Regions from separate parts of the Homo sapiens genome. Here regions 1, 3, 4 and 5 are each linked to region 2. The links come from fine-mapping of genetic effects on gene expression. A gene starts in region 2. Each other region holds a variant in brackets. All regions are shown on one strand. Distances are between the middles of the regions.

Evidence for each region. PIP is the estimated chance that this variant, and not a neighbour inherited with it, causes the effect.
Region 1: its variant is fine-mapped to the expression of PDCD6 in subcutaneous fat (GTEx, PIP above 0.99). The same link has a PIP of 0.9 or more in lung and monocytes.
Region 3: its variant is fine-mapped to the expression of PDCD6 in whole blood (TOPMed, PIP above 0.99).
Region 4: its variant is fine-mapped to the expression of PDCD6 in tibial nerve (GTEx, PIP above 0.99). The same link has a PIP of 0.9 or more in atrial appendage, breast, coronary artery, esophagus mucosa, pancreas and sigmoid colon.
Region 5: its variant is fine-mapped to the expression of PDCD6 in whole blood (TOPMed, PIP 0.98).

The regions. Positions count from the first base shown.
Region 1 is chr5:317,134-321,635 of GRCh38, reverse strand. All of the region lies in intron 3 of PDCD6-AHRR (PDCD6-AHRR readthrough (NMD candidate)), which reads right to left. Among named protein-coding and RNA genes, the nearest start is that of AHRR, 2.3 kb to the left of the region's middle. RefSeq lists silencers at 1-300, 451-710 and an enhancer at 2,820-3,119. The variant C/T (reference allele first, on the strand shown) is at 2,600.
Region 2 is chr5:269,379-273,880 of GRCh38, reverse strand. It overlaps PDCD6 (programmed cell death 6), which reads right to left and starts at 2,235. Exons shown (of 6, transcript NM_013232.4): 1 at 2,060-2,235; 2 at 1,109-1,170. The coding sequence starts at 2,160. PDCD6-DT (PDCD6 divergent transcript) reads left to right here and starts at 2,357. Exons shown (of 2, transcript NR_104613.1): 1 at 2,357-2,536; 2 at 3,674-4,325. PDCD6-AHRR (PDCD6-AHRR readthrough (NMD candidate)) reads right to left here and starts at 2,235. Exons shown (of 13, transcript NR_165163.2): 1 at 2,060-2,235; 2 at 1,109-1,170. RefSeq lists a silencer at 1,943-2,152 and enhancers at 2,443-2,532, 3,194-3,886.
Region 3 is chr5:297,937-302,438 of GRCh38, reverse strand. All of the region lies in intron 2 of PDCD6 (programmed cell death 6), which reads right to left. The region is part of intron 2 of PDCD6-AHRR (PDCD6-AHRR readthrough (NMD candidate)); the gene reads right to left. Among named protein-coding and RNA genes, the nearest start is that of AHRR, 22 kb to the left of the region's middle. RefSeq lists enhancers at 182-687, 688-1,193. The variant A/G (reference allele first, on the strand shown) is at 2,300.
Region 4 is chr5:311,732-316,233 of GRCh38, reverse strand. It overlaps PDCD6 (programmed cell death 6), which reads right to left. Exons shown (of 6, transcript NM_013232.4): 6 at 1,260-1,817. The coding sequence ends at 1,719. All of the region lies in intron 3 of PDCD6-AHRR (PDCD6-AHRR readthrough (NMD candidate)), which reads right to left. Among named protein-coding and RNA genes, the nearest start is that of AHRR, 7.7 kb to the left of the region's middle. The variant G/TCAGGACACAG (reference allele first, on the strand shown) is at 2,204.
Region 5 is chr5:305,661-310,162 of GRCh38, reverse strand. PDCD6 (programmed cell death 6) reads right to left here. Exons shown (of 6, transcript NM_013232.4): 4 at 3,403-3,561. The region is part of intron 3 of PDCD6-AHRR (PDCD6-AHRR readthrough (NMD candidate)); the gene reads right to left. Among named protein-coding and RNA genes, the nearest start is that of AHRR, 14 kb to the left of the region's middle. RefSeq lists an enhancer at 2,486-3,370. The variant G/A (reference allele first, on the strand shown) is at 2,637.

The sequences.
Region 1 (4,502 bases), 48 kb before region 2:
GGCGCCCGCGGGTCCGGCTGTCTCGGGTCCGGCTGCCCCAGCTGCCCTGGCGAACCGGAGACGCCATCCGGTTCCCCTGGGGTCCGCCCTGCGCCCTTCGCGTCCCAGTGATCCCCCGGAGTCTCCGTGCCCCGAGGCGGGGGTCGCGCGCTGAGCCCCTCCAGGCCCTGCGTTCCCCCTGGGGTCTGTGTGCGCCCAGGGTCCCCCGGTTCTCCCTGCGCCCCCGTCCCCTCCCCAGCGCTCGCGGCCGGCTGTGCTGAGCTGCCGGCCCTAGAGCCGGGCGGTGTAGACCCGAACAGGTAAAGTGAGGAGAGCGTGTGCCCCCTCGCCTGCCCCATGAGGTCGTTTCGAAAATGTAAAAGGAGTCATGGTTTTTGGCGAATTATAGAGAATATTAAGATGCTTTTGGATCCTGAGCTTCCCAGGAAGCGGACGCGCGCCAGGCACGGCAGGGTCGTCCGTGCGACGTTCTTCGTCCTGGGCATTTCAGGGTCCCACGCGGCAGGTGTGCGGCCCTGGGTGCCCCTGCCCCGCCCACCCCGCCGGTCGGCACCCGGGACCGCGCGGCCGAGAGCAGGGTCCTGCCTGCAGGTCCTTAGGGCTCACCCCGCGCCCTCTGCGCGCCCGCCGGCCCCTCCGACCTCGGGCTGCGCCTTCTCCTTCCCCCTCCCGGTGGTCCTTGGCCCCCTCTAGTCCTCCGTCCGGGCGCGCAGGCCCTGGCTGAATTCCCTGTACCCTCAGGGGATCCCTGGGGACACCTCAGCCTGGCCTCGCACCCTGACGTCTCCACAGACCCTGGCCGGCTTCCACCCGTTCTCGCCCTCGCTGGGGCCGGCCATGGAGTCGGTGGTCCCTGGAGTCCGCTCCTCAGCATCCGCGGTCCTCATCCCAGCCGGGGGAACCGCGCCCTCTTCATCCCGCAAGGTCGGTTTTCAGCAACGCGGCCGAGGCTGTCACTGGCGCCCCCAGGTTCTCAGTCAAACCCCGTCTCCCTGACGCCCCCAACCCGCCCCGCGCCTCCTGCTGTTCTCTGAATAAGGCGTGCGGGCCTTGGGGCCTTTGCACTCGCTGTCTGCTGTCGGCTCAGGAAAAGTCTCTTTTCCAGACACAGCTCCCAAGGTGGGGTGGGCGCAGCTGAGAAGCCCACCCTGCCCCCAAGTGGCCACCGCCCCTCCCCGGGTGTAGCTCCTGCAGGGCAGCCCAGAATTGCTGAGTTCTGCCGCTCTGTCCCCAGGGGTCACCAAGTCGGCTCTGCTCACCTCTGGTTCCTGTCGAATAGCAGAGGCTCAAAAATGTGAGCTGAGTAAATGGGCTTTTTTGGGACAGAGTCTTGCTTTGTCACCCAGGCCTGAGAGCAGTGGTGCGATCTCAGTTCACTGCAGCCTCTGCCTCCAGGGCTCAAGCGATTCTCGTGCCTCAGCCTCCCAAGTAGCTGGGATTACAGTCGCGCGCCACCACACCTGGCTAATTTTTTTTTTTTTTTAAGTAGATAGTGGTTTTGCCATCTTGGCCAGGCTGGTCTCGAACTCCTGACCTCAGGTGATCCACCCACCTCGGCTTGCCAAAGTGTTGGGATTACAGGCATGAGCCACTATGCCACTGAGACAGCCAGGAGCCCTGGGTGCACACATTTATTTTTTGATATGGAACAATGTGCAACTATATTGCTGTATTTTTAAAAATCATTAGTTTTATCTTGATCCAATTTTTGTAAAGTGAATTATGCACAGAAAATGTGTAGCTGGATAACTCTGAGGTAACAGGTGAACTTTAATTTCTTTTTACTTTTTGAAAAGTCTACAATTCCTGTAAATTTTTGCAAGAAGCACATAGTACCTTTGTGATCTGTTAAAATAAGAACCTGTGGGTAGAATGTGATGGTGGTGAGCCGCAGTCCCCCTGCATGGGAAGACAGCACCCCCATGTCTCAGGGCAAGCACGGGTTCCCTTCCACCTACCCTGTCCCACCAGAACCAACTGGAATGAGACACTTTGTTACTCTATTTCCTGGGTACAGAAGGAAACTGCTCCTCCTTCCTTCCCACTGCCCTTGACCGGCACAGGCCATCCACGCCCACCTGTCCCCTGTGCTTGTCCCCAAAGTCTCAGGTCTCTGCAGGACCTGGGGCAGCCAGTGGGACTGTGCAGAAAAAGGATGACCCTGCCGTGGGAGCCACTGCCCCTAAAGTCTCAGGGTTTAGCAGGCAGAGCCCCACGTGGAGTCCTGGAGTCTCTGGGCACCCCACCAGCACAATGGGGGATCCCTGAGCCACCTCCCGTTCAGACGGGCTATTGGGCGTGCCTCCCTCCCCACCACGAAGGTCCAGATGCAGCTGACACCCCCAGTCACAGAGTCTCCTTTCTGCCTCTGTGCTGGGGACCCTGTTCAGGAGGTCTCCTCCCTCCAGTCCGGACTTGCTGTCCCCAGTGTCATTGAACCCTCTGGCTCCCACCCACACTCCCAGCAGCTGGAGACACACCCCTTTCTCCTGGGCCACTGGTCCTCTCGGGACTCTGAACCAGAGGCGCTAACACCTGGCAGGGATGGCAGCTGGGGCAGGACTGGAAGCCTCCGAGGACCCACCCCCAGCTCCGGGTA[C/T]CCCCACACTGGAGTCTGGTGCGGTGGGTCCCCAGAGCCATATGAGCTGGACTTGGCCTCCAGTGGACCGCCACATGGCAGGTGCCCACGGCCGGCTGCAGCGCCAGGCCCCTCCCAAACAGGCCCAAGTTGGCTTCACAGAAGTGTGGGGGCAAAGCTGCTCTTCATGGGCCTCCAGGAGTGGTGACTGTGACTGCCCCCTCCTGTCCTCTCCTGGCCACACCTTTGCCTCCCACAGGCAGGCCAGGTCAGGAGCCCCCAGGGCCCTGACCTCAGAGGCAGACAGGGGTGTGCTGACCCCTCGGGCCAGGCCAGGACCCCGCACAGGCGCCTGCGGCTCTCTGGCTCTCTGATGGCGGCTGGGTTTCCCGGGTTCCCCGGGTTCCCCATGACTGCTGTGTCTCCAGCGTTGATGCCTCACAGGGAGCCGCTTGGGCAGCCCTGGTCACGCCTGGGTTCCCTCTCTCTCCCACACCAGTTTCTCCCTGGTCACGCCTGGGTTCCCTCTCCCACACCAGTTTCTCCTGTAGCACAGAGAAGGACCTGGGGAATTTTGTCTTTTGTTAAAAACCACAAGGGAGCTCCCTGCTGGGCACAGTCACGGTGGCGCCCGTCAGAGCTGCTTCCAGGGTGCATTCCATCATTCCAAGTTCACTGTGCTGGAGTCAGCTCTCTGCTTGCCGCAGGGTGAGGGGGGGAGGTGGAGGGTGAGGGGGGAGGTGAAGGATTGGGGGAGGTGCAGGGTTGGGGGGAGATGCAGGGTGGGGGGAGGTAAAGGATGGGGGGAGGTGCAGGGTTGGGGGGAGATGCAGGGTGGGGGGAAATAAAGGATGGGGGGAGGTGCAGGGTTGGGGGGAGATGCAGGGTGGGAGGGAGGTAAAAGATGGGGAGAGGTGCAGGGTAAGGGTGGGAGGTGCAGGGTGCGGGGGGGAGGTGGAGGGTGAGGGGGGAGATGAAGGGAGGGGGGAGGTGAAGGATTGGGGGAGGGAAAGGATGGGGGGAGGTGCCAGGTGAGGAGGGAGGTGAAGGATGTGGGGAGGTGCAGGGTTGGGGGGAGATGCAGGGTTGGGAGTAGGTGGAGGGTGAAGGGGGGAGGTACAGGATGGGGGGAGGTGCAGGGTGAGGGGCAGGTGCAAGGTGAGAGGGGAGTTGAAGGGTTGTTGGGGGAGGTGCAGGGTTGTGGCGGGGAGGTGCAGGGTGGCTGTTGGGGGAGGTGCAGGGTTGTCCGGGGAGGTGTAGGGTTGTGGGGGGAGATCAGGGTAGGGAGGGTGGGGAGGCATGGGCCAGGGGCCCCAGGTGAGGGTGTACGGCGTGCACCTGCACCTCCATGTCTGCACTGATGACTGAGGACCCAGAGCGGGGGGAAGGAGAGGCCCCCAGAGATGGCTGTGCCCCCATGTCCTGCTGTCTTGGGTCTTGGGACCGGGGTCGTGACGCTGAGGGTCCCTGGTGGGTGGTCGTGGCCGCTGGCCTGGCCTGGCCTCCGCGACCCAGCCTCACCACACTGGGCCTGCGCCAGGCACCTGGTCAGCTGTCCACCCCCTCCACCCCCAAACCCAGGCTCTGAAGGGTCACAGGGCACAGCCTGCCTGACAAGGGAGAGCTGAAAGGGCGAAGGCCCGTCTCTCTGTAGTCTTCTCTCTGCGGCTATAAATCCCATGGCTGTGTCGGGCAGGTCCTCCCGGTCAGTCAGCAGCTCCCGAGAGCTCCGTGGTGCAGCCGCACTGCCCCCACGTGGCCCAGGCTGTGTGCAGCTGCCTGGCCCTTGGGGCCTCAGAGTGCAGTGAGGTTTAGCTCAGGGGCTTCCCTCACCCAGGAAGGCGTGGGTGGCCTCCCTGCAGGCGCCTGAGGATGGGGTCTGTGCTGGCAGTGTGGCTGGGCAGGGGGCACGGCAGCCCTGCTT
Region 2 (4,502 bases):
AGAGATAACAGCATTTCTGAATTCCCTGAAAACAATCTATAGAAATGCATGTGAAATAATACACCAGCATCTGTGGCCCACACGCCACATATTAGGAACTGATGTCGTAATATAAGGTAAAAATGTTACTCTGAAAACACAAATCCTCACAAATCATTAGGCAGTAAGGCTGAATCCAGCACCCCCCCACCCACAGCGCAGTGAGGCAGTGTCTAGCAGCCGTAGTGCTCCCCGCGCCCCAGTTCAGTCTCTGGCAACTTCAGATACTTCCCACTAATAACAAGAAGCCTTTCAACATTTTCACAACATCTCAAAACTGACCCCTTTTCTAGCTTAAATGGCACGGATCTGGAAAAGCAAACTATACACAGAATCAGAAAAGATGACTGCCCCTGAGGGATTACAGAAAAAGTGGCAGTCAGGTTTCAATGAAGTAAAATGTGTCCAATGATAGCGGAGGGGAGGGGGATCAACTGAGCTGAAACTGGCAAGAACGTAATTCCAGGGAGCTCACAACACGCAAGGACCCGGATTTCCCGCTGCCTGAACGCCCAGTATTCGCACACTGATAAGAACACCTCCCCATAATCCCCTGGCCAGCGCCTCCAACACCCCCAATCCTTTCCCCAGGAACCCAGTCCCAGTTTCTGCAGTTCCTGTAACAGCCACATTCCCATACAAGGGCTGCCTGAGCTCCCCAAGCCCTCCAACAATCACCCCCCAGTGCCCTCGAAGGTCTATTCAGAGAAGTCACCAAGATGCAGTCACCCAGGAAATTCAAGGACCTCCAACTTACCAAAAGGCTTTCGGCTGTACAGAGCTAAGCTTCCTATTCCCCTCCTAAACCTACAATCTAGTTTTCATTTCTCAAGAAGCCTTTCCCTGTGCTCACGCACGCAGTTGTTAGCTGGCTCGGTGAGGCACTCCAAGCAGTAACAGCGGTAGCCACAAAATAAACCAGAAGCATCTCCACTACGAAGCAGTAATAACAATTTGTCCTAATGATTCCTTTGTCCTTGGAAAAACAACTTCAGAAAGTTATCCACTGTGAACAGGGCAGGCTCGCGGCTTCTTGGTCCGGAGACCCAGTTCCCACTGGCCCACTCACCGTTGGAGAGAGCTTGCTGAAGCTCGGTGTCTGATATCACTCCACTCCTGTCTTTATCGACCCTATAACATCAAGAAGACCAAATAAGCTGGCGATCGAAAGTTCAGGAAAAGCAAAACAAACGTCTTCTGTCAACCCTGCACCGACTCTGGAAGGCTCCCTCCTGGAACCTCCGCCTCTCCCGTCCCGCTGAGGAGTACAGCGGAATCAAGGAAGTGCCCCAGGAGCCGACGTCCAGTGTGGTCTTCCCCTAAGAGGACAATCATCTTCACCTCAATCCTTCCCTTCCTTCCTCTCCTGGCCTGTCTGAATTCCCATTTGCACCCGTTTCCCTTTTTCACAGACAAGACAAGATTCCCTCAGATAACTAAGCCATTCCCTGGCCATCAGTCACTACAGTTTCGGACATTCGGTGGAAAAGCGACCAGGGACAGAAGGCGCCGCCATAAAGGTCACCTGGCCCGAGCAGACGCCAGGTCGCTGCTTCTTCCTTGGCTGCTGACATTTTAACAGCGCCCAGGCAGTCTGTTTCCGCTTTCCCCAAACAAGCACCCTGGAGACCCTCCACCTGGCGGCTCTTGAGGCGAGAAAAAGGGCCTAGCCCAGGAGCCGGTGGCCGCGACCTCGGGTCTGCAGTGGCGCACTCTGCATCTTGGGAAGGGCCCGACGCACAGGACAGGGACCGGGCAGGAGGCAGGGGCGGCCCCAGGAGACCGGGCAGCGGACGGGGGAGACCGCGGGGGACCCGCCAGGGGACGGGGGCGGCCGCGTCGGCTGGGGCAGGGGTCGGGGGCGGCGGCAGGGGACGGGAGGGGGCCGCGGGGGACCCGACAGGGGACGGAGGAGGCCGCAGTAGAACCGGCAGGGAACGGGGTTGGTCGGGGGAGTCGGGACAGGGGTCGGGGCCGCCGCGGCGGAGGCGGGAGGTGCCCGGGCGGTGCCAGGCCGCACCTCTGGAAAACGTTCCACAGGAAGCTCTGGTCCGGCAGCGCCGCGCCTGCAGCAGGCCCAGGGCCGGCCCCAGGGCCGGGGCGGTAAGAGTAGGCGGCCATGGGCCAAGGCACGCGGCTGGGCTGAGGCGCCTGCAGCGACGAGAGACCTCTCAGGCCGACTCCGCTTCCGCCTCTGCCGGGGGCAGGGCCTGGCATTATCACCACTTCCGGGGGCGCAGGAAATGCGTGGTCTCCGGGATGGTCACGGGGTCCCGCGCAGCCAATCCCCTCGCAGCTAAGTTGCCAGGCAACGCCCTGGCGCCTGCGGGGAGGGCGGGGTCTGGGCGCCTGGAGGAAGCCAGAGCTTTGGCGCAGGCCGCCTGCGCGCTGTGCCAGGAAAGCGCTTGGAGAAAATGTCCGGCCCCGCGACCTGGGACAGGAAGTGATGGAGCACGGACTTAGTTTGCCTTTCAGTTCTTGTATAAATAGTTTTGAGGTGAATGTGATTTGCTAACAGTCGGAAACTCTGGGCGGGGCGCGGTAGCTCACACCTGTGATCCCTGCCCTTTGGGAGGCGGAGGCGGGCGGAGCTCTTGAGCCCAGCAGTTCGGACCAGCCTGGGCAGCATGGATAGACCCCATCCCTACAAAAATTACAAAAAGTAGTCGGGCGTGGTGGGCTCCTGTGGTCCCATCTACTCCGTGGGCTGAGGCGGGAGGATTGCCTGAGCCCGGGAGGTCAAGGCCGCAGGGAGCCGAGCTCACTGCACTACAGGGGTGGACAGCGAGACTCTGCCAAAAAAAAAAAAAAAAAAAAGAAAGCAAAAGCAGGCCGGGCGCGGTGGCTCACGCCTGTAATCCCAGCACTTTGGGAGGCCAAGGCCAGTGGATTACCTGAAGTCGGGAGTTCGAGACCAGCCTTGGCCAATTGGGAGACACCCCGTATCTACTAAAAATACAAAACTAACCGGGCGTGATGGTGCACACCTGTAATCCCAGCTACTCGGGAGGCTGAGGCAGGAGAATTGCTTGAAACCGGGAGGAGGAGGTTGCAGTGATCCGAGATCGGGCCATTGCACTCCAGGCCTGGGCAACAAGTGCAAAACTCTGTCTCAAAAAAAAAAAAAAAAAAAAGTCAAAACACAATTCGGGTGGGAAAGGCAGTGTGCAGCATTCTCGGTTGTCTGTTCCGCCCCCAAAAGCTTCCCTCCTTTAGGTTTAACCTGCGCCCCCGTGCTCTGCATCAGCGCGGCCCCTGACCCCGTGCAGCTGGAAACACTGCTGGGCCCCTTCACACCCCTGCCTGCTGGGCCCCTTCACACCCCGGTGGTGGTGCAGCCCTGCCTCCCGCAAGACAGCACTGCCTTCGTGCTGGACACAGTTCTAAGGTGGAGCCTGGAGTGCCTGTAGCACAAATCCCGGAATTGGGAAGTGCCCAGCTTTGGGCCACTGTGATCCCTGGGTCTTTCCCACGCGCGTAGTCTCGTGCCGCCTTCCACCCCGGTCCTGTGTCCTGTGCCCCGGTTCAGAATACTACAATTATTCTCATTATTTCATGGGGTTATTTCAGCTTTTCAGTTTCTTCAGTGCCTCATTCCATGAATGCTAACTTTTTTCATCCTCATACTTCCTAGGGTTGTCTCTGAATTTTCACTCAGTTGTCTACCAAGATGTTGAATGGACCCAGAGCCAAGGACGTGGTCTTTTATCAGTGGCACCTGAGACTTTCTTCCCTGTGGACGCAAATCCATTATTCAGCACTCTGGGCACAGCTACAGATCTGATCAGCTATCCATTCTCCAAACTATCTCATCCTCTGTCCCATTTTTCTGTCTCTCTTGTCCACAAGGCATATACCTGAGAGTTTTCAAATTCCTCAGAGAAATTTAGATATTCTGTGGCTTTGGCATTCACCTAATGTGTTAATCTACAAACCTTTTTTACAGTGTGGATTTTTTTTCATGATGTGAATTCAAGTGGTTTCTAATGGTCTCTTCATAAAGTTGTAAACCAAAAGTAAAATTCTAAGGCCCCACCCCATCTGAATGGACCCCTTCTCTGGGCCAGGGCACTCCAAATTAACCTGAAAACCGTTCAGGCCACGACATGAAGTGGGGGCGGGTGGGACATGGCTGACTATGCCCTCCTCCCTTTTGGAATTCAGGGAAAGCCAACACAGACCTTAAGTCTAATGAGAAACACCATCTATTCTCTCTGAAGCCTGCTACCCCAAGGCTTCTTCTGCTGATAAAACTTTGGTCTCCACAACCTCTTATAACCCAGACATTCCTTTCTATTGGTAATAACTCTCAACTAATTGCCAATCAGAACATTTTTAAATCTACCTATAACCCAGAAGCCCCCACTTTGAGTTGTCCTGCCTTTCTGGACTGAACCAATGTATATCTTGAATAGATTTGATTGATGTCTCACGACCCTCTAAAATGCATAAAACCAAGTTGC
Region 3 (4,502 bases), 29 kb before region 2:
TCCCCACAAAGGCAGGTGCACCTGAACCTGAGGCATACACACAGAGCAGCACTCCACGACCCACCCTCCAGCAGTTATGCAGGGAAGCTGTGCCCTTCCCACAAAGGCAGGTGCACCTGAACCTGAGGCCCACACACACAGCAGCACTCGATGACCCGCCCTCCAGCAGTTATGCAGGGAAGCTGTGCTCTTACCACAAAGGCAGGTGCACCTGAACCCGAGGCATACACACACACACACACACACAGCAGCACTCCACGACCCGCCCTCCAGCAGTTATGCAGGGAAGCTGTGCTATTCCCACAAAGGCAGGTGCACCTGAACCCAAGGCACACACACACACACACACACACACACACACACACACAGAGCAGCACTCAATGATCCGCCCTCCAGCAGTTATGCAGGGAAGCTGTGCTCTTCCCACAAAGGCAGGTGCACCTGAACCCGAGGCATACACACACAGCAGCACTCGATGACCCGCCCTCCAGCAGTTATGCAGGGAAGCTGTGCTCTTCCCACAAAGGCAGGTGCACCTGAACCTGAGGCATACACACACAGCAGCACTGGACGACCCACCCTCCAGCAGTTATGCAGAGAAGCTGTGCTCTTCCCACAAAGGCAGGTGCACCTGAACCCGAGGCATACACACAGAGCAGCACTCCACGACCCACCCTCCAGCAGTTATGCAGGGAAGCTGTGCTCTCCCCACAAAGGCAGGTGCACCTGAACCTGAGGCCCACACACACAGCAGCACTCGACGACCCACCCTCCAGCAGTTATGCAGGGAAGCTGTGCTCTCCCCACAAAGGCAGGTGCACCTGAACCTGAGGCATACACACACAGCAGCACTCGACGAGCATCTGTTAAGCTGAATAGAGTGATAATCTGCAGGATTACCTTTCTGTAGGCTTTACAAGTATCTGAAAGGAGAGTAGACAGGTATATGTATATAGAGGTATTCAGAAAGGTCGGAATTACTGAAAACTAGTGTTACAAAAAGCAAAGATAGGCTACAGAAAACCCACAAGGCAAAGAAAGAGGAAAACTCTAAACACCAAGGAGCATCCCTGCCTCACCCAATTCCATCTGGTCTCCCCCGTTCTTCACCGCTGTGTGCGGCAACCTAGTGTCTGCACACAAGGGTGACCTGCTCTGACCCAGCGCTGACAGAAGCCCCAGGAGCCAAAGCCCCTGGAAGCCTCCTGGGCAATCAATCCTCTGTCTTCATGCCATGAGCTTCTTCTCCTCTGTCTTCTGCGTCCGTGGCCCTGGATTGACTGTGTGGAGCTGGATGAGACCTAAGTCCTCAAGTGAAGGCTGCACTGTGACGTGTCCTGATCATAAGCAGAAGCTTCTCTGGGCCATCTCAGCAAATAACACGGTCAAACAAGTTTTAAACCAAAGCAACACAGGTTAAAACACAAGCGAGATGTTAACGCCGCAGCGCAGGCACAGGGAGGCTCAGGTGCCATCTGGACGGGCACGCATGGAGTGTGCCGTGATGGTGCATTCCTGAGAGCTGGGGCCCAGGAGGAACCGGACGGCCATACTGGGGTCTTCTGGAGTATTCTAAGGATTGCCCAGGAGAGCAGAGGTTGTCCCGGGATTAATCAAGGATGAGAGAGGCAGCCACCCCACTAGAAAGGGCCGCTGAGGGATGGACACTCCTGATGTCTCCACTCGCCTTCCTTGCCAACCACAGCGGGGTCTGGCTTCTCCACAGAAACCAAGAGAGAACCACCACAAGGCCTAACGGCCCGTAACGAGCTGAAGCACCGTGGCGCACAGGCATTTCACGCCTCGGTTACATTAGGTGCTAGACATACCTGGGCAACCGCCTGAAAACCTAAGTAGATGCTGTGCTTTGCCCAAGGCCATGGAGTCACTTGTCACCAAATCCCAAGCCTTCCCCTGAAGCCCTGCCAAGGTGAGTTTCTGGTGAAAGCACGAAAGACTGCATGGGGGTCCCTGAGACCACCCTCCAACTTGAAAGGGTACAGAGTAAACCAGCCAAGGGAAAGGGCTGCCAGGGAAGCCAGGCGCTTCCAGAGTCCCTCCCAGCGGAGTCACACAGGGTGCGCCGGATTCCTCCAGCAAGAAGCTGGGACAGCTAGTGCCGTGGTGCGGACCAGGGAGGCTCTCCTGAACCTGGGGGTCAGTCAGGGAAGTTCCAGCCACCCACAGCGAAAGCAGGTGTTTGCCATCCATCACCTTGTTGGTCAACTACCCAGGCAAAGTAGTGCAACATGGCTCAAGTCTCTCTCATCAGTCAGAACACTGCAGGAGCTCAGCTCCC[A/G]GGAGCCAGCCAAGGGCCCCTCCTGGGAACGTGCAGGGTTTGAGCAATCCACACCCGCTGAGTTAACCCCTTCCCACATAGGCAGATCAAATCTGCTCCATCACCAGGGGCAATAAATACCATCACCCACATCCCTGGGCCCATGTGAGAGAAGGACAGTGATGGGACTGGACATGTACTTTACAGGGCACTGTACTGCTTCTGAGGTCTGATTTTTCTCAGTTCTCTTTAATATGTGATCTCCAAGAGAGCCTCAACTGTATTTGATAAAAAAATAAAAAAAAAAATACCAGCTGGGCGCGGTGGCTGGCGCCTGTAATCCCAGCACTTTGGGAGGCCAAGGCGGGCGGATCACCAGGTGAGGAGATCGAGACCATCCTGGCTAATATGGTGAAACCCCATCTCTACTAAAAATACAAAAAATTAGCCAGGCATGGCGGCGTGTGCCTGTAGTCCCAGCTACTCGGGGGGCTGAGGCAGGAGAATGGCGTGAACCCGGGAGGTGGAGCTTGCAGTGAGCTGAGATTGCACCACTGGACTCCAGCCTGGGCGACAAAGTGAGACTCTGTCTTAAAGAAAAAAAAAAAACCTTCAAAAGAACGTAAGAATTATTTCTTAAAAGTACAGCTTCAGAAGCACAGAGACTTGAAAAAAGTTAATTTCTTATAATTCCAAGATGTTTTGGGAACGAGAGATCAGCACAGAAATTGGGCTAGGAGGATAATGGATGAAACCGATGGGCTGATCACGGTTCCAGCATGGTCTCGCCAGGGAGGTGACGGGGTTTGAGTGCTGCAGTGCAGGACTGGGGATGCCACAGGAACGGGTGCCCCAGGTAGGGCGTCATCCAGGAAGGATGAGAAACCTGAGAACAGCTGGGGGGGAACAGCTGGGGGGGAGCAGCGGAGGGGGAACAGCTGGGGGGAGCAGCTGGGGGGAACAGCTTGTGGGGAGCAACTGGGTGAGAACAGCTGGGGGGAGCAGTTGGGGGGGAGCAGCTGGGTGAGAGCAGCTGGGGGGGAGCAGCTGGGGGGGAGCAGCTGGGGGGGAGCAGCTGGGTGAGAACAGCTGGGGGGGAGCAGCTGGGGGGAGCAGCTGGGGGGAGCGGCTGGGGGGGAGCAGCTGGGGAGGAGCAGCTAGTGGGGAGCAGCTGGGTGGGAGTAGCTGGGGGGAGCAGCTAGTGGGGAGCAGCTGGGTGGGAGTAGCTGAGGGGGAGCAGCTGGGGGGAACAGCTGGGTGAGAGCAGCTGGGTGAGAACAGCTGAGTGGGAGCAGCTGGGGGAGCAGCTGGGGGGAGCAGCTGCGGGGGAGCAGCTGGGGGGGAGCAGCTAGGGGGGAGCAGCTGGGGGAGCAGCTGGGGGGGAGCAGCTGGGGGGGAGCAGTTGGGGGTGAGCAGCTGGGGGGAGCAGCTGGGTGGGAGCAGCTGGGTGGGAGCAGCTGAGTGGGAGCAGCTGAGTGGGAGCAGCTGAGTGGGAGCAGCTGAGTGGGAGCAGCTGGGGGGAGCAGCTGGGTGGGGGCAGGGTCCGCTGGCTGCACGGGGGTGGTGAGAGGAGCCCTTGAGGGCCTGAGAGCAGCGAGGCCGGGAGGAACCCTAATCCCTCATCTGCACATGACATGGGGCCTGCCGGAGCCCCACAGAGCTTGGAACGGAGCTGGGGAGGAGAGTTTGCCAGGCCTCCCGTCCCCTCCTTCTTCCCACTGGGATTGCTCTGCAGGAAGAAGAACCCATCATGTCCTTGTAAATGTGCTGGGGAGAGAACCCCTGACAGTGCCTGGTGCTCACTCCTGGGGAGCCACTGTCTCGGGTGGTCCTGGTACCGTGAAGTTTCTGGGCTCAGGTCCATGGCACCTGGAAAATGTGTTTAAGTGAAATGATCTTCAAAGCCCAAGAGGAAATGTTCCAGGCACCCCTCAGAGACCCCATGAGGCAGGAAGGACAGTGGGGCTATGGGGGCCCCCAGCTTCTCCAGCTCGACCCGTGCCTGGGAATTACCCCTGAAATCATGAGCAGAGCTGGATGCTGGGTCAGTTCTGTGTGCCTGGAAATTACTCCCTGATATCGATAGCAGAGCTGGACGCTGTGGTCTGTGGGACTCTACCCTTAATGGCTTCATTTATTTACGTGGATCTAACCTTATATTTATCTATGTAAAGAAATAAATTTGTCATTTGTTAGATTCACCTGTGCTTGAGATCTCTTTTTA
Region 4 (4,502 bases), 42 kb before region 2:
GGGGTGGGGGTTGCCCACTGCACAGGGGACAGCACGGGCAAGGGCCTGGAGACGTGGCTGGGAGGGCTGCAGGGTGGCCGCAGCAGCTGCCCTCACCCCAAGCACAGAGACCTCACAGGCCTAAGGCTGAAGGAGGAGTGAGGGCAGCTCCCAGGGTGGGGTGGGTGCAGCTACTGGACACTGAGTCCAGGTGCCCATGAGGCGAGGGAGAAGTCGCTGGGCGCCTGGCCGTGGAGGCCTGGGTGAGGAAGGCCTCATGGAATTGGGAGCTTGCGGCCTGGACAAGGAAGTTGACCTCATGGAGTAGAACTTGGGGTCATCTGCTGCAGAGTCATGGGGGTGTCAAGGTCTAGGGAGGCACCCGGCGTGGATTGCTGGGGATCCTCAGAGACTGCCCTGGGATCCCCATGACTGAGGTCATGAGGGAGCAGCCAGACCCCCAAGCCCACATCCCTCCCCCTCCCATCCCCAGGGAGCCTGGAGTGCCTGCTCCAGAGGGATTCGTATCCAGAGGGCCCCAGGCCAAGTGCAGTTGGGCAGTGGGGGAGGTCTCATCTGGAGCACAGAAGCAGCCCCAGTCCCCACCCCCCACAGCACACCTGCCCAGCTTAAGAGACTGGGGGCTTTTTCCAGGAAACCATGCTCCCTGCCCCTCACCCCTCAACACACCGAGCAGAGGTTTGAACAGATCCCAAGAGACCAAAACGAACAGAGAAAAGTCGTGCACAACTGGGTGGAAGGAGCAGGCTTTCTGAGACCAGAGGCTGCAGCCCCAAAACCAGACGCATCACTGTGGAAGGGAAGCGTCTGGAGAATGAGGCTGGGCCTCGGGAGTGTCAACCCAGGAGGGCCGGCGCTGCACAGTGAGGCAGGGAGGCGGACCGGGCAGCGCTGGCAGTGGACCGAGGTGAGCAGGATGCGCTGGGTGGACAAACGCTGCAGGCCACGTGCAGAGACTGCAGGGCACAGCATGGCTAAATCATTAATGATGGAAATGCACAACCTGCTATACCAAATTGGATTTCTTCATCCAAAAGGAGCAGTCTTATGAAATTTAACCTCCTGAACAGAGGGTGAGACAGTCCCTCTGGATTTTCACAAGCAGAGCTGTGCACGCTGGGCTGGACAATGTTCCAGAAGGTGCCCGGTACCCTGGGAGGTCCCAGGCAAGCCAGAACATCTGACACTGACTGTCTGGAGGACCAGGGCACGGGGCCTGGTTCTTGGACCTATTTGATTTGAAAAGCTGAAGGCAGACCACACGTCTAACATTCCCTTTATTGCTTACGTCACATATTCCAATGAATACAATAAACTCCTTTTTAAAAAAGTAAGGCACATGAAAAGCCTTTTGTGTAAGTTCCATGTTATTTTAAAATTCCTATTGGCTAATAAAAGCATTTGCACTATAGAACCAGAGACATCTAGAAAAGCACATGATAGATTTTTTTGCAAGCAGAATGCCTGAAACATTACATTTACCTCATGGCACAATGAGACAGTCACCAAATCCAATGTCTGCATTAGAACGATACAGCTACTATTACAGTTGCAAAACCATTAATCAGCTTATCCACATATGTACAGCTGGGTCCCCACGTGACAAAATCTAAAGGAAGAACAGCATCTAACTGCACCTGTGCTCCATTCCCTCACAGATAGGAACTGTGACATTTTGGCTCTTTCCATGTTGTGCTGCTCTTCACGAGAGGCCAGGGTCATACGATACTGAAGACCATGGACAGGTACTGTTCGTACGACACCTGAATCCAGCCGTCCTGATCCGTGTCGTAACGTCTGAATATATCCGTCAACCTCTGGGGAGAAAACAGGCATTTAAATCTCGATAGTAAATGGAAGGAGCAAGGTGCACTGGGACAAAGGCATGTAGGGACCCAATTTCAGAAGCACACACGTCTTCTGGGCTCCCTGATGGAGCCCAGCACAGGGAGGCGCAGGTGGGGCTGGAGCTGTTCACACGGACGGTGGGAGTGCGAAGAACGAAGAACACAGGGCTGCGGGGCTGGCTCCGGACATCCAGCCCTGGCTGAGCCCCTGGCTGAGCCCCTGACCCCAGGCTCTGGTCTCCTGAGTCTCCTGGGGGCCTGGGCCCTTCCTTCTCCCCCTGAAGACCGTCCCGTGGAAGCCCTCCACCCTCCAGTGGCTCGCCTCTGCTGTGGGGGCCACCTGGGGCATGTGCAGC[G/TCAGGACACAG]CAGGGGATGCCCAGCCAGATGGGCTTGTGACATCACGAGGGCTTCAGGTTCCTCCAGCCCAGCCCACCCCTCCCTCTCACAGCCGAGGGTCCAGGCCAGGTCAGCGGCAGAGACAGGGTGACCACCTACACTCCTGAAACAGGGATGGTTAAGTAAGTGACACTTCAACCGTAAAATACCCTGAAGATTCAGGCCAGCATGGTGACTCTCGCCTGTGATCCCAGCACTTTGGGGGTCCGAGGCGTGAGGATCGCTTGAGCCTGAGGGTCGAGGCTGCAGTGAGCCGTGTTCGCACCACCACACTCTGGCCTGGGTGATGGAGCAAGGGTCTGTCTCAAGAAAGAAGAAGAAAATGTGGCAGGGAAGACACAGCGTCCTCGCACATCAAGACCTGCAGGAACATGGACAGGGTGTGGTGACTCTCGCCTGGGATCCCAGCTACTCAGGAGGCCAAGGCAGAAGGATCGCTTGAGCCTCAGGGTCAAGGCTGCAGTGAGCTGTTTACACCACCACATTCCAGCTGGGGTGACAAGAGTGAGACTCCATCTCAAAGAAAAAAAAACAACCCTGCAGGAATGCCACAGCCACCACCGGGCTCCTTGACTTGGCAGAGGCTACGGCCTCACCCAACTCCAAAAGCACCGCAATGGATAATGCTGGCTTAAAGAGTAATGGGTAATTTTTCTTTCTATTTTGAATACTTTGTGTTTTTCTAGGGTTTCTAGAAGTGTTCATGTTATTTGTTAGAAAATAATTTTCAAAAAGCCTTTATCCTTTCAGAAAAAGCAGATAAATAAAAACGTTTTTGAGGGAATTTTAACTTGAGGTCTGCAGCTTTCTTTTCTTTCCCATTCCCCATCTGTCTAGCGTTTAGGGTCACTCTCCAAGGGTGGGGACAGCCTGGGAATTGGCTGTCAGGCCCTCCCCACGTGGTCTGGAGCAGGGCCTTGAGGAGGCATCTCCCAGGAGGAGCTACGCTGGCTGCAGATGTGCCTTGGAAGGCGCTGGAGAGGTCGCTGTGAGGCCGCCTGTGTTACTCCAGCTACCGAAAGCTCACACAAGATCAACGTTAACTTATAGAACATAACCTCAAATGAAGATCTGAGCCCTACGGCAATTCAGACACAGAACCTCAAATGAAGATCTGAGCCCTACGGCAATTCAGACACAGAACGAGATTTTACACGGCATCTTTTCCCTTTTTCTTTTCTTTCTTTTTTAAGACAGGGTCTGGCTCTGTCACCCAGGCTGGAGTGCAGTGGTGTGATCTCGGCTCACTGAAACCTCCACCTCCCGGGTTCAAGTGATTCTCCTGCCTCAGCCTCCTGAGTAGCTGGGACTACAGGCATGCGACACCAGGCCCAGCCTACACTTTTTTGAAAGTGTTCAGAGAACATTGTAAAAATGTCATCCAACCTGGCAGGAACCCCGAGAGGCAGGGGCAGGAAAGGGTCCCCAACCGTAGAGTTTTGAAGCTTCCATGTTCACAGACCTGGTTCTCCAACAAATCCCTGAAGAACAGGGACTGATGCATCCATGCCAAATCAGAGGAAACTCACTTTTACAGATCTAGCATCTTAATTATTATACAGAATAAACAATTTGGGAACGTTTTCCAAATTTCCACATTATTTCTAAAAACCCCATGCTGTTCCTATCTCTCACTGAATTCCAAGGCCAACAAGACAGGACCTTGAGGAACCTGGGTAGAGACCTGGATCACCACCTGCAAACAGCAGCAGAGGTCTGTGTGGAGCTCCCAGGCGGGTCCCCTGAGCCCTGCTCTCCATCTCCCGTGGGTCTCAAAGAGAGCCCAGCAGGAGAGACACCACCAAGGAGCTTGCCTTGCAGGTCAGGGTGCATTACCAGCTCCTGCAGACACTGGAGTGCACGGGAAGAGCTCGGAGACCCCACTGAGGGCGGCCTGAGCGACCACAGGCTCCACAGCTGACCTCACACACAGACGGCAGGACACAGTGATGACCACAACAGAAAACGTGCCCATTTTCTCAGAATAAAAGTTTTTGTAAAAATACACCATAGTTGGCCAGGCATGGTGGCTCATGTCTGTAATCCTAGCACTTTGGGAGGCTAAGGTGGGCGGATTACTTGAGGTCAGGAGTTTGAGATCAGCCTGGCCAACATGGCAAAATCCCGTCTCTACTAAAAATACAAAAATTAGCTGGGTGTCACCTGTAATCCCAGCTACTGGGGAGGCTGAGGCAGGAGAATTGCTTAAACCCGGGACGCAGAGGTGGGAGTGAGCCGGGATCGTGCCACTGCACTCCCGTCTGGGTG
Region 5 (4,502 bases), 36 kb before region 2:
TTCTGGTCCCTACTACTCCCACCTCCTCACTCCCTGCACCAGGGCTGAGCCCAGCCTGCTGAGAACAGAGCCTGGGACAGGCCCACAGGGACATTGCCTGTCTGGGAGTGCATGGGGGACAGAGGCCATCACTGGTGTGCACGGGGACGGCGGCCATCACTGGGGTGCACGGGCACGGCGGCCATCACTGGTGTGCACGGGGACGGCGGCCATCACTGGGGTGCACGGGGACGGCGGCCATCACTGGGGTGCACGGGGACGGCGGCCATCACTGGGGTGCACGGGGACGGCGGCCATCACTGGGGTGCACGGGGACGGCGGCCATCACTGGGGTGCACGGGGACGGCGGCCATCACTGGGGTGCACGGGGACGGCGGCCATCACTGGGGTGCACGGGGACGGCGGCCATCACTGGGGTGCACGGGGACGGCGGCCATCACTGGGGTGCACGGGGACGGCGGCCCTCACTGGGGTGCACGGGGACGGCGGCCCTCACTGGTGTGCACGGGGACGGCGGCCCTCACTGGTGTGCACGGGGACGGCGGCCATCACTGGGGTGCACGGGGACGGCGGCCATCACTGGGGTGCACGGGGACAGAGGTCATTACTGGTCTCCTGCCAAGGCTGGGGAAGGACAGAGGAGATGCTGACAGAGGCAGAGGAACTCCAGTCTGCACAGACAACAGGAGCAACCCCACTGCCTCTGGAATTAACTTCCAGTTTCCTTGGTCATCAGTAATAGTGAAGGGAAAAGAAAGGCAAAGTCAGACAGCAAAATGAGGGATGAACAAACGAACTACAAAAAGAATGTTTATCTGAGAAGCCAAAATCCAGAAGCAACTGTTTCTGAGTTTCTGTTCATGAAAGTCAGTCCACATGAGGCCACCAGCGTCCCTGGGCCCACCCCTGACACACCCCTTGCCAAGGTCTTTCTCCTCTTTCGGACTCTCTGAAATGCTGTGAACGAGCCAAGCGGAGCATGACCTCCTCAGAAATCACCTCTTCCACCTCGGAGGACAAACCAGCTGCCCCCACTCAACAGGCTGAGGCTCCCTGGGGCTCCCCCCAGCTCTTGGGGGCCTGGTACAGTGGCAAAGGACCACAGCGGAGGAACTGTTCTCCGCCCGACTGCCTTTGTCAGACACGCACTGCCCACCAGAGGGGAGAATCTCACCGGCTGTTTACAGCAACCTAAACGGCACGTGCTGAGTCAGCTGTCCCGGTGCCGGGTGGTGAGTGCTGGAATGTGAGCACGCCTTCCTCACCTTTTCACTTCAGGTCTCTGAGCATGGCACACAGTTGATGTTAACAATAAAGGCTTAAAAAAACGAATCGGTGGATTATGAAATCCACCATGTGGCCCCATCAGAGACACCCGGGGAGAAATCTCGCAGGCTTCACCACCCTGGTGATTCCCTCCTGCTGGCCACCAAGCTCCAGTGCAGCCTCCCTGCTTCATCTGAGAGCAGAACACTTGTTCACAGGGGCCAAGACAAAAGAAGAATTTTTGCTTCTGAGGCCAACTTCCTAACAGTTACTATGGGAAATCTTTCAAAATCATCAAAATACAAAAAGGATGACAATGCCCCTTTCCAAGGAAGACGTGGGAGATGGCCCTGGAGATCAAGAACCAAACGCAGGAGGAAACTCGTGAGGGTAACCAGAGAAAATGCTGCGATGGGATGCCGCACCCCAGGAAAAACCTGGAAGTCAGGAAGGGTTCTGCCGCTGCACAACACAAGCAGGCCTGCCCACTCCAGGGCGGGAGGAAGGCTGCGTGACCGGCCGTGCCTCCCGCCACAGCTAAGCACAGTTTTCTGGGAAGTCCTTGGCCAGACCAGGACGAAGAGGGCCTCAGAGACCAGGGAGCACTGTCCACAGCAACTTCCACTGCACATTCTGAGGACCGATGGTCACTGGCATGGACAAAGGGAGCTCCAGGGCCTGACAAGGTTAGGAAAAGATGTCCGTGGCGCCAGAGGTCGCTTATCTAAAAATAACTTCAGGCCGGTCCTGAAGTCCACGTGGCCCTGGCCGCAATCGGCAGCACTGGCCTCCCTGGCCCCCAGGACCACTCTCTGTGGAGGGTGGCATCCTTCCCTCCCAGCCCTTCCGTACCTGCCCCAGGGAAGAGGAGCCGGCCAGCGTTCCCTCCAGTTCCCCCACCCAAGGGCACAGCAAGGTCAGCTGCATTCCAAGTACCAATTCAGAGCCATCCAGCCCAAATCCTGGCTCGCAGCTGGTCAGCTCAGAACTGCTTCTTGAGGAGACCCAGTGTCCACCCCCGGCCCTGTGGACAAGCTCGTAAGGTGAGAAAGAAAAGAGAAAGAAAGGCAGCCACAAAGTGCATGCTGGGAGGAAACACGAGGAGAGGCGACGTGCTTAGATAAGTGAGACTCCAGGGATCTCGGAGGTACTCAAGTAGAATCGAATTTTCCTCACTGTTTCTAAGGAGCCTTTTAAGCAAATCACGGAAGCGGCTTCACAACAGGGGCCAGATGAGATCCGCATGGATTAGAATCTCGGTGCAGCCACCAACAGCCTCAGGCTGGCCCCAAACATGCCCGTTGTTCCTCTGTAAATAAAACCCCTGCTTCCTCTCAGCCCTGAGAGCAGCACGGGAAGCCCCGTGGACA[G/A]GCCCTATGGACGCACTCTGGACAGGCACTGTGAACACTCCTAGACCCACGGCACACCGTCACATGTGTGTGTGCACACGCGTCAAGCACACACACGCTGAGCGCACCTGAGAATGGGCACGCGTTCTGCCTAACGCCCCTTCTGAGGCGCACGGCACACGTGTGCACACACACGCCGAGCACACACACGCCGAGCACACCTGAGAATGGGCACGCGTTCTGCCTAACGCCCCTTCTGAGGCGCACGGCACACGTGTGCACACACACGCCGAGCACACACACGCCGAGCACACACACGCCGAGCACACCTGAGAATGGGCACGCGTTCTGCCTAACGCCCCTTCTGAGGCGCACGGTTTGGACCTGGTGACTGACAGCTGTTTCTTAGGTGACTGTTGCCTTTTCAACGTGCTTTGATCTATCATGAAATATAAGCTGCCCTGCCCCACGGTATTTTCATGGATCCACTTTTAAATGATTTCAAAAGCCACATTCTCAGTTTTGCTCACGACATCATTCCACTTCAGAAAAGATGAACGGCTTGCATAGCCCTTATCTCATTTTGGATAAAAACCTGAATAAACGTATCCATGTCGAGGATCGCCTTCCGACATGAGCAATATCAAATATGAACCTGCATGACGTCAACAAAAACTTTACGTAGCCTGGTTAGACAATCAGTTAAGTCCAACAAGGTTTAAAGAACTTCAACGGCTCCAAGGTTCCAAAATGAAACACGCTACACAAGCCAGAGTGAGTGAGTTACCGAAACCTGAGAGGGCCTGCTTCAGCTCGTTCTTATCGATCATCCCGGAGTTGTCCCGGTCGTACGTGCGGAAGACGTTCTGCCAGTCCGTGATGTACTTCCACACACCCGTGAACTCGCTGAAGTTCACGCCGGCCTTGTTCTCACGGTCAAACATGGCTGAGACAGAGAGGAACGGTCAAGCAGCAAAAGATCAGTTGCAGCAAACTCACTTGAGGCTTCCCACCAGACCTCAGCCCTCAGAGCCTGGCGGGGCCCCACTGCTGACCACTAACCAGGGACTGGGCAATGCATGCCTGTCTGTGAATGGGGTGAAATCCCTTAAAGTCTTGTCACCTTCGCCCTGGGTGGGGGTGTGGGGGATTGTCCCCCAGCCCTGACCCCCTAAGTCCCAGGAGAAGGTGCACTTGCAGCTGTGAGGCAGGCCGTGCAATGGGATGTGTGAGGAAATCCAGCCGCAGCCACGACAGAAAGAAGAGCAGAGCTTCACACTCAGCTTCCGAGGCACGGGGAAGGTAAGTGGCCCCAGCTCCCCTGGCTCCTGGGTCTCGGCCTAGAACGCGAATCTAATTCCCAGAGCTGACCCTCTGACTCTCCAGGGCCCACAGCACTGGTGGAGTCTTGGAACAGCCCTGTCAGGAAAACCTGCTTTAATTAGAAACAGACCCTCGCCTATGTCCTATTTGCTTTCAGTCTAACTCCAGGTCCAAATACAAAAGAATCTATAACTACCTTTATATGTAGTTGCAATATGGCTAAAAAACATAGAAAAATTCAGTGTGAATTACTGCTGCAGAGAAAATGATAAATCACGTGGTCTCTTTTCAAGAACAGAGGTTAATACAGGACTGCAATAAGACTACTCCTGGTTTGATCAGAAATATGTTACAATTAAATGAAAATCCACAGGATGAAAAATCATGTGAGAAACAGCATCGATGTTTCTTCCCAACAGTCCACAACCCTGTGTGCAACCAGTGGCTGTTTTTCACACAACCGTTCCACGACGTGCACCGTTCCACGACGTGTGTGGTGTGTGGACCAGGGGCTGTTTTTCATACGACCATTCCACGATGTGTGCAGTGTGTGTGGACGATGCT